Linked DNA regions of Homo sapiens: all the other regions are linked to region 2. The links come from fine-mapping of genetic effects on gene expression. A gene starts in region 2. Each other region holds a variant in brackets. All regions are shown on one strand. Distances are from middle to middle. Region 1 overlaps ZNF862 (zinc finger protein 862). Region 2 holds the start of ZNF862 (zinc finger protein 862). Region 3 has its middle 8.4 kb from the start of ATP6V0E2.

Evidence for each region.
Region 1: its variant is fine-mapped to the expression of ZNF862 in blood mononuclear cells (TOPMed, PIP 0.99).
Region 3: its variant is fine-mapped to the expression of ZNF862 in whole blood (TOPMed, PIP above 0.99).

The regions. Positions count from the first base shown.
Region 1 is chr7:149,862,274-149,865,020 of GRCh38, forward strand. It overlaps ZNF862 (zinc finger protein 862), which reads left to right. Exons shown (of 8, transcript NM_001099220.3): 7 at 1-221; 8 at 1,836-2,747. The coding sequence ends at 2,011. Among named protein-coding and RNA genes, the nearest start is that of ATP6V0E2-AS1, 10 kb to the right of the region's middle. The variant C/T (reference allele first, on the strand shown) is at 986.
Region 2 is chr7:149,836,622-149,839,339 of GRCh38, forward strand. ZNF862 (zinc finger protein 862) reads left to right here and starts at 1,754. Exons shown (of 8, transcript NM_001099220.3): 1 at 1,754-2,014. The coding sequence starts at 1,991. RefSeq lists a silencer at 1,830-2,289.
Region 3 is chr7:149,880,961-149,883,714 of GRCh38, forward strand. It overlaps a transcript of ACTR3C not described here. Among named protein-coding and RNA genes, the nearest start is that of ATP6V0E2, 8.4 kb to the left of the region's middle. The variant G/C (reference allele first, on the strand shown) is at 1,459.

The DNA.
Region 1 (2,747 bases), 26 kb after region 2:
CTGTGAGCGGGGGTTCAAGGCCATGAACCGAATCAGGACCGATGAGAGGACCAAGCTCTCCAACGAGGTGCTCAACATGCTCATGATGACAGCTGTGAACGGCGTGGCCGTCACGGAGTACGACCCCCAGCCCGCCATCCAGCACTGGTACCTGACCTCCTCAGGCCGGCGTTTCAGCCATGTCTACACCTGTGCCCAGGTGCCAGCCCGCTCCCCTGCAAGTAAGTACACGTGGCAGAGCTCCCCCAAGGCAGCCTCATGCTGAGCCAGAGGCCAATAAGACAGGACTGCAGGTGCCTGTGGAGCTTCTGTCATGCACCCACCCATTTGCTAGGCCAGTGGGTACTCGATGCGTGACATCCACCCTCCAGGAGCTTGCACCCCTGCCAGGGAGATGACGCACATGTGCTCTAGGCAGCAGGGCTTAGTGCAGAGAGCGTGCATTTCTAGAGCCTGTCTGCCCTGGTGACAGTGCTGTGCTGGCTCTGCCCCCAACTGGCTGTGTGGCCTTGGGCAAGTCTGTCCTTTGATGCCTTGGTTTCTCATCTGCCGAATGAGTTGTGTGTGGAAAACACTCAGGACAATGCCTGGCAGGTGGTGCAAATGGTACTAGTTAAAGGTCAAGACCACTGCTGGGAGTAAGGAGAGGGCTGACCAGCCCCAGGCAGCGCCATCACATTCTAAGTGGGGCTGTATAGACTCTGGACCGTGCAGGAATTTTCAAGAGGGAAGAGGTCCATGTGGCTGTGGAGGAGGTGAGATGCGGAGGAGATGGTGGGGCTTTCAGGCAGAAATCTCACGGGGCAGGGGAGAACAGAAACAGCCTCTCTGGACCGGAGGGCTGGGGTCAAGAACTTGCTTGAGGGGGAAGCTGTATTAGAAGGGAGGGCAAGTTACTGAAAGCCACAGACAGGAAATTTTTCTCTTCAAGTAGTCACTGAAAACCAAAGAAAATATGCCCATTGTTGGGGTTCTCCAGACCACT[C/T]GCGACCACTTGACAAGGATGGAGCAGTGCTCTCTCTCCTCGCGTCTCTAGCTGGCCTCCTTCCGGCTGTTGCTGCTCCCAGTGCTCTCTCTCCTCGCGTCTCTAGCTGGCCTCCTTCCGGCTGTTGCTGCTCCCAGTTTTCACCTCTGAGTCTGTGGTCACCAGAAATGGGACTGGATCTCATGGCTGACAGAGGCTCTGTAGGAAGCAAGGTGGCCCTGAAGCCACAGTAGGGCAGGTGGGGATAAGAAAAGAGACCCCTCACTGATAAGAGAAAGGGAAAGCCGAGAGAGGGCTGGGTGAGTTGCTCTGTGTCCAGCCCTGTGGGTGCTAAGGAGAAAAAAATGATGTCAGGTGTGCCCTGATGCGAGTTACTCTTTCCACAGGGACAACAGGACCAGCACAGATTGGTCCAAACACTGCCAAACTACGCACCGCTGCCTCCTTCCAGGCAGGGCTCTCAGCCTTGGCATTGTTGATGCTGGGGCTGGGTAATCTCTGTTGGGGGCCCTTCCTGTTCACTGTGGGAACTTGAGCAGCATCCATGGCCTCTACCTATTAGATAACCACTGGATACCAGTAGCACACACCCCATTTGTGACCACAAAAATCATCTCCAGACATTGGCAAATGGCCCCTGGGGGACAAAATCGCCCCCAGTTGAGATCCCCTATCTCAGGATAAAAGAATGAACAGAGTAGCAACAGATGAGGGCTGCAAAGAGCAGTCGTGGTCCTGACTTCAGTCTGTTCTGCCAAGCTTTCCTCACCAAACAGCCCCTGGGCGAAGCTGGATGTGGAAGGCGGTCACTGTCAGTCAGTCTAATTGTATTCTCCTTCCTCCCTCACAGGCGCCAGGCTCAGGAAGGAGGAGATGGGAGCCCTCTATGTGGAGGAGCCCAGGACCCAGAAGCCACCCATCCTGCCCTCCAGGGAAGCAGCGGAGGTTCTGAAGGACTGCATCATGGAGCCTCCCGAGAGACTCCTGTATCCCCACACCAGCCAGGAGGCCCCCGGGATGTCCTGAGGGACAGGGAGTCCTTGGGACTGCCTTGGAGACGCCTCTGTGATCACTGGGACAGGCTCTGCAGATTCTAGGCTGCCCTAGGATCTTCTGCTGGTGGCGATGGTCTCTAAGCACCAGGAAGTGGGCAGTGGCATCCCAGAGCAGCAGGGGTATCAGGAGGTGCATGACCTGTTTCCTGAGGCCCCACTCAGCACAGCCATGCCTCACAGCACACAAATGTGCCAGAAGGTTCTATATCTCAAGTTCATTTTTAAGGTGCTGCAGAAAATAACCCCATCATGAAAGGTTTCAGCCCCTGAGTTTTGGTGGCAAGAGGAGTGTCCTGGTAGGGGAGACTGTTGGACATCCCTGGGGAATGTTCCAGGGAGGCTGCCCACAGTCTAAGTGGGAATGGGAAAGACCACCTTGTTAGAGGGGGAGGTTGCCCCTGCTCTAGGGACAGCTGGCCTGGCTGCAAGAGCCCCCAGAGGCATTGTTCTGGGACTTCCTACCCTGGCTCCCACAGCAGAAGCAGTGAGGCCGTGGTCTCGTGCGGAACTCTACCTCTTCCCAGGGCTTCCTTTAGGGCGAAACAATCACAAGCCCTTTGCACAGAGCACCCAAGAAAGTTCTCTTCCTGCAGCTCCAGATGGTGGAGCTGGGCTCTTCTGGCAGGGGGTCTGGTGCTTCCCGGAGAGCCGAGCCGCGTTTAACCCGTGGCATGCCCGGCCCGGTTTACCCAGGAGAGGATGGGACG
Region 2 (2,718 bases):
TTCCCATCAACACAGAAACAAGATCTTGTGACTCATATCTTAGTCCTACTGCTTTGATTCCCCATTTCCCCCTAGATACTGCTCCATTTTTCTTGGAAAGATGGAAAACCTTTTATGGAAAAATGTGTCAAAAGAATGATTTACCCTAGCTGTCCTCCAGTTTTTTAACCCCTAAAAGAGAATCTGTTATAAAGACATGGATAACTCATGGGCAGAAATATAGCTCTTCAAGGTAGTGATATAGTCGAGGTGGTGAGTGGCAGGCCACTTGGAATCCACAGAGTCCTCACTCTCTGCCTTCTCCTCCACATTTCTTGTGTCTCATTCTTTTTTTCAGTAATGCAGACTCCCCTACACTCCTCGAACGGAATTTAGGTCTATTCAACCTTGGCCAGAAGAGCAGAGCTGGATAATGGAAAACGCTTACTTGAAGCCTGTGTAACATGGTGAAACCCTGTCTCTACTAAAAATACAAAAAAATTAGTTGACCATTGTCTTAATCTCTATGTGCTTCTGTAACAAAATCCCTGGAACTAGGTAATTTATAAATTATGGATACTTATTTCTTATGATTCTGGAGGCTGGGAAATCCAAGATCAAAGCACCAGCAGTGTCTGTGTCTGGTGAGAGCCTGGTCTCTGCTTCCAGGAGGGCACCTTTTTGCTCTGTCCTCACATGGCAGAAGGCAGAGGGGCAGAAGGGCAAAGGGCCTAGCTAGTTCCCCCAGCACGCATGTGGTCACTAACACCTTCATGAAGGCACATCCCTGCCCTGGCCCCCTAAAAGTCTTTTTTTTTTTTGAGACATGGTCTTGCTCTGTCACCCAGGCTGGAGTGCAGAAGCGCCATCCCGGCTTACTGCAGCCTCGACCACCCAGGCTCAAGTGATCCTTCCACCTCACAAAATTATTTTATTTTTATAGAGATGGGATCTCTCACTGTGTTGCACAGGCTGGTCTCAAACTACTGGGCTCAAGTGATCCTCCTGTCTCAGCCTCCCAAAGAGTTGGGATTAGAGGTGTGAGCCACCGCACTTGGACAAAACTTCTTATAAGGACACTAATCCCACCATAAGGGCCTGACCCTCACGACTTCATCTAAACCTCCCAAACGCCCCATCTCCTGGGAGGGGAACACCGGTCAGTCCATTGCACCTCCTTTACCTGGCAGACCCTACCTCTTGCTTTAATTCTGCTGAGGCATCACTTCCGCAGGAAATCCTTGACTAAGCACCTCATATCCCCCACCGCTTCACTCTAAGGTGACAACGCGGGCTTTAATTCATGTTTTGTGCTTACCTCTTTCATAGCCCTTGTCTCTGTTTTGTAATTATCTGTTTCTGGTCTGATTCCCTAATAGATCGTGAGTTCCTTGAAGGCAAGGCCTTTGTCTCATTCAACTGTGTTCTCCCAAACCCTAGAACACGGCCTGACCCATGGTAGGCAACCAATGATACTTTTTGAGTGAATAGAACAAAAAGTATTGCCCTCCTTAATAAAAGAAAACCTAGAACTTCAAGGCTGACATTGGCCTTCGCGTAGCCCAATCAGAGCGCTTTGCCCTTGCTGCAGAGGACTAAAGGACGCCACGCCGCCGTTGCCTAGTAACTGTCGCCGGAGGGAGGCGGGGAGGGTCGCAAGCGCGCCGCCGGCGTCCAATCAGGACCTGCGTTCCGGGAGCCAATAGCAGCTTCGAGAGCCGCTCACCTAGAGCGGACTACACTTCCCGTCACGCCCCGCCGCCTGGGGCTGGGCAGTGACCGTAAAGCTGTTCGCTCGGTGCGACGCAAGTCTCAGCTCAGCGCGCTTATCCTGGGTCCACCGGCGCTACCGCCCCCCGACGTGAGAGAGCGAAGTTCTTGGGCCGCGCTCCCTCCCTACCTGGGTGCCCTCCCCCTCCGGGAGCCTGGGTCCCCGGGGCGGTCGCGGCGGCTGCATCCTCAGGCCAGGCCGCGGGGGGAGGGGGCGGCACGGGCCTCCGAAAGCGGGGCCATGGAGCCCAGAGAGTCGGGGAAGGTAGGACTGGAAGGCCCGGGGGCCGCCCGCTCCCTCCCGAGGATCCCCGAGCCGGGCTCGGGCGAGGCGGGGCGGCTCGGGCGGAGGCCCCGCAGATGAGCCAGGCTTGCAGGGAAGGACTCGCCGGCCCGCCCTCTCTTCCCGCACTTCGGCGCCCGACCCCGGGAGGGTGGCGGAGAGGAGCGGACGCTTCCGTTCGGTGTCCGCGCATCCTCCCCGAGCTGCCGAGCGTCCGCTGGGTCGATGCTGGGTTGGGTGACCCCCGAGTGGAGCGATGCGAAGGTGCTTCCTGTTTTCCCCACCACCTTCGGCGTTTTGAAGAGGCCCTGCTAAGGCTTGGAGTCTGGATCGGACGCCAGTGGGAGCTGCAGGGTGGGACGCTTGAGGGCTTGACCCTGCCTAGATCCTCCTTACCAAGAAAGGGCTGAAAAGAGAGGGCATCTGGCATGCTTTTTGCCACTTCTGTTTCTAGGTTATGTACTTCATGGAATATCTGGGCATTGCTTAGAAACCTGTGTCATAAATTGGCTTTGGGCAAGAGGCTTTGAGTTGGAAGAAAAGGTGGAAAGAAAGTGCTTGGGGGCGGAGTTCAGGGATTTGACGGGATTGCCAGCGCTTCCAGGCCGTGTCATCCAAGACCAGTGTGGTTGTGGGCACATTAGCTTGGAGACAGTGGCAGCCTCTTGGGACTAACATCTTTCTGG
Region 3 (2,754 bases), 44 kb after region 2:
CGTCTGGGCCCCAGAGGACACAGTGCAGGACTCCTGCAGTGAAGCAGGTCGCCAGAGGCTTCAAAGCCTCCTTCATGAAATAGCCTAGGGCTGGGATCTGCCAGCACATCTCGCTGCAGGTCCAGTGGGGAAGTGGGCAGAGGGAGCCCAGCCCTCCAGCCCAGCCTGTAGCCCAGGGCAGAGCTGAAAGAACTTCCCTGGAGGGACAGGAGGGTGGGGCGGGACTGGAAGACGCACAATGGAGGCACCAGAGCACTGAGGGCGGAAAGCCAGCTGAGGAGCTTGGATGGATCCCAAGGGCCATGGGAGCCGTGAAAGGGATTTAAAGCAGGGCCGTGACATGGCCAACTGGATTTCTAGCATTATCTATCTCTACAAGCTGCACAGTGGACGGCAGGCTGGTTTGACATCTTTATTAGGGCCCCTGGTGGAAGTGGTGAGGACAGAGAAGCGAGGGGGGAGCTGCTTGGCTGTGACCCATAGAGACCGAGGCTGCCCGTGGTGGGGAGTGCAGCAGGGGCAGGTCTGAGAGTGGCTGTGGGAGCTGAGGTGTTCCTTTGTTTCCTGGTGAGTCGTGTGTGTCCAGGGCACCCCGTGGAAGTGTAGGTAGTGGCTGGCTGGGCGGTGGGGCGGATGGTCAGGAGGAAGATGAGGCTGCAGGAGGCAGAGTTGGAGCCATCGGCATAAATAACCGGTGATCCCTGAGGGGTGCAGGTTGCTCAGGGGGTTCAGAGTGAGAAAAACCCAGAAGAGAACCCCAAGGAGTGTGAGTTCACGGGGTGGGTGGGTGAAGGTGGCCTGTGGAGGATGCCGGGAGGTTGCAGGTAGCCGGAAGACAACCAGGTGAGTGTCACTCAGGAGGATGAGAGGTTCAACAGGAGAGAGTGGTTGAGGTAACACAGACCCCCATTGTCCTCTACCCCCAAGAAGTCAAGGTCAGCTGGCATCTTTGGTGATGGGCAGTAAAGTCAGACTGCAGTGGGCTGGGAGCGAGTGGGCAGGTGGGGGGTGAGAAACACAGTGACCTCAGGATGGGGACCCCGTGGACCCAGTGAAGCTGGACCTGGAAAGACCAAAGGGAGCTAAACAAGGAGGGACCTACTGGGCCCATTTTCCCATGTCGCTGTGGGTCAGCCCTGGGCCTGGGGGAACCACTCTGCCAGTTCCTGCCGCTGCACCTCTGAAGCCACACCCAGCCCGCCACAGGCCCACCATGGGGGCTTCAGGTTCAGGATGCTGAAGATCCACGTTGGCCCAGGATTGGGGTGGGGGGCATGTATCCAAAATGGCTACTTCCTTGTCTCGGCTTCTGCTCTTTGGGTTCTTGCCTTCTGTGATATTGGATTGGTGGCATCTTTAGACACTCTCCCGGGATGTGTGTGGCTGTGGCTGAATTCTCACTGAGCCCCCTGGGTGGCATCCTCTGGGCCTGGGAGGTGGAGTCCTGGAGAGCTGCTC[G/C]CTGCTCTCTGGGCAGCCTCTGGACTGCTGAGGGCTGGTAGCTCCTTCCCAGGCAGGGTGGCCTTTCTCACATCTTCCATCCTTCCTTCCTGTGCAGCCATTCCGGGAGAGAGGAGAGGGTCCCAGAGCTCATGTCCACTCCACTCCCTGGCACGATCTGGTCTCCCACCCTTTGGTGAGGACCGTGTTCCTCCCAGAGGCTTTCCCTCCAGGCCCGAGGTGGGAACCTGCAGGGTAAGTAGGTCTGTCAAAGATAAACTAAGCTGGACCTTAGTTAAAGCTACGAAAACAGACCTTATTCATTAACCACTGACAGGGGAGAAGCTGAGCTCCATTCAGATCTGTGCAGGGGGACTGGACAGTTTAATGGGAGAACGTAGGAGTCGGGAAAGGGCATTCCAGGGCTCAGGAATCATGGGAGTGAAAAATTACAAAGGGCTGTCTGTGTTATTGTGGCCGGGCCAGCTGTGTGTGCCAGCTGGCAGTGATGGAAGTTAGGTTCTGGCCTCCCCCAGAGCCTGGGAGACAGGCCCCATCCTTCCTGATGATGCCATTTCAAAGGACTGGCTCTCAGGCTCTTGAGAAAGACACTCCTGGACACACATGCATGTACATCTCAAAGGGACAAGGGAAGGAGGTACGACTCTAAGTGTTTTTAACGTAAATGCTCTAAGAAAGTGAGGGGGTGGTCAGAGGCCTGTTGTCAGGTGTTGGTAGGAACAAACACTAAATGATTTTGACGGCCTTGAGCTTTTTCAGACAGGAACTCAAAGGGTGGCCAGGTGGTCCCAGGGATGCCGCTTTGGGCTGCCAGAAGCCATGCTAGGGTTGGTCCAGTCTCTTGGTGCAGGGGTTTGGACACAGTCACTATGTACCCAACTTCTGTTAGAGTTATCAGTTTCAAACCCCACCCGTGCCCCCAACACCATCCCCAATGTGGGAGGCACATCAGTAAATATCAGCCTCTGACACAGATGCTCACGGACCTACACGATGCAAAAAAGCTCTAAAAATGGGCCGTGACTGAGAGCAGGGCAGCCCTGAACCATACCAAGTGGCAGAGCAGGAAGTGGCCTTGGAGGCCACGCTGAGACAGAGGACAAAGCCACTGAGAAAAAAAAGTAAAGGTAACCAAGAAAAGTTAAGCTGCACACAAAGAGTATGGCCAACAGAGGGCAGCGCCTGCGTGCAGGATGAAGTCTCTAGCGAGCCCTCGTCCAATCTGCGCATTGCTGGGGGTGGATGGTGCCGAGGTCAGAGATGGTGGCCCTAGAGTCATAGGCTTGAGCAGGGAGC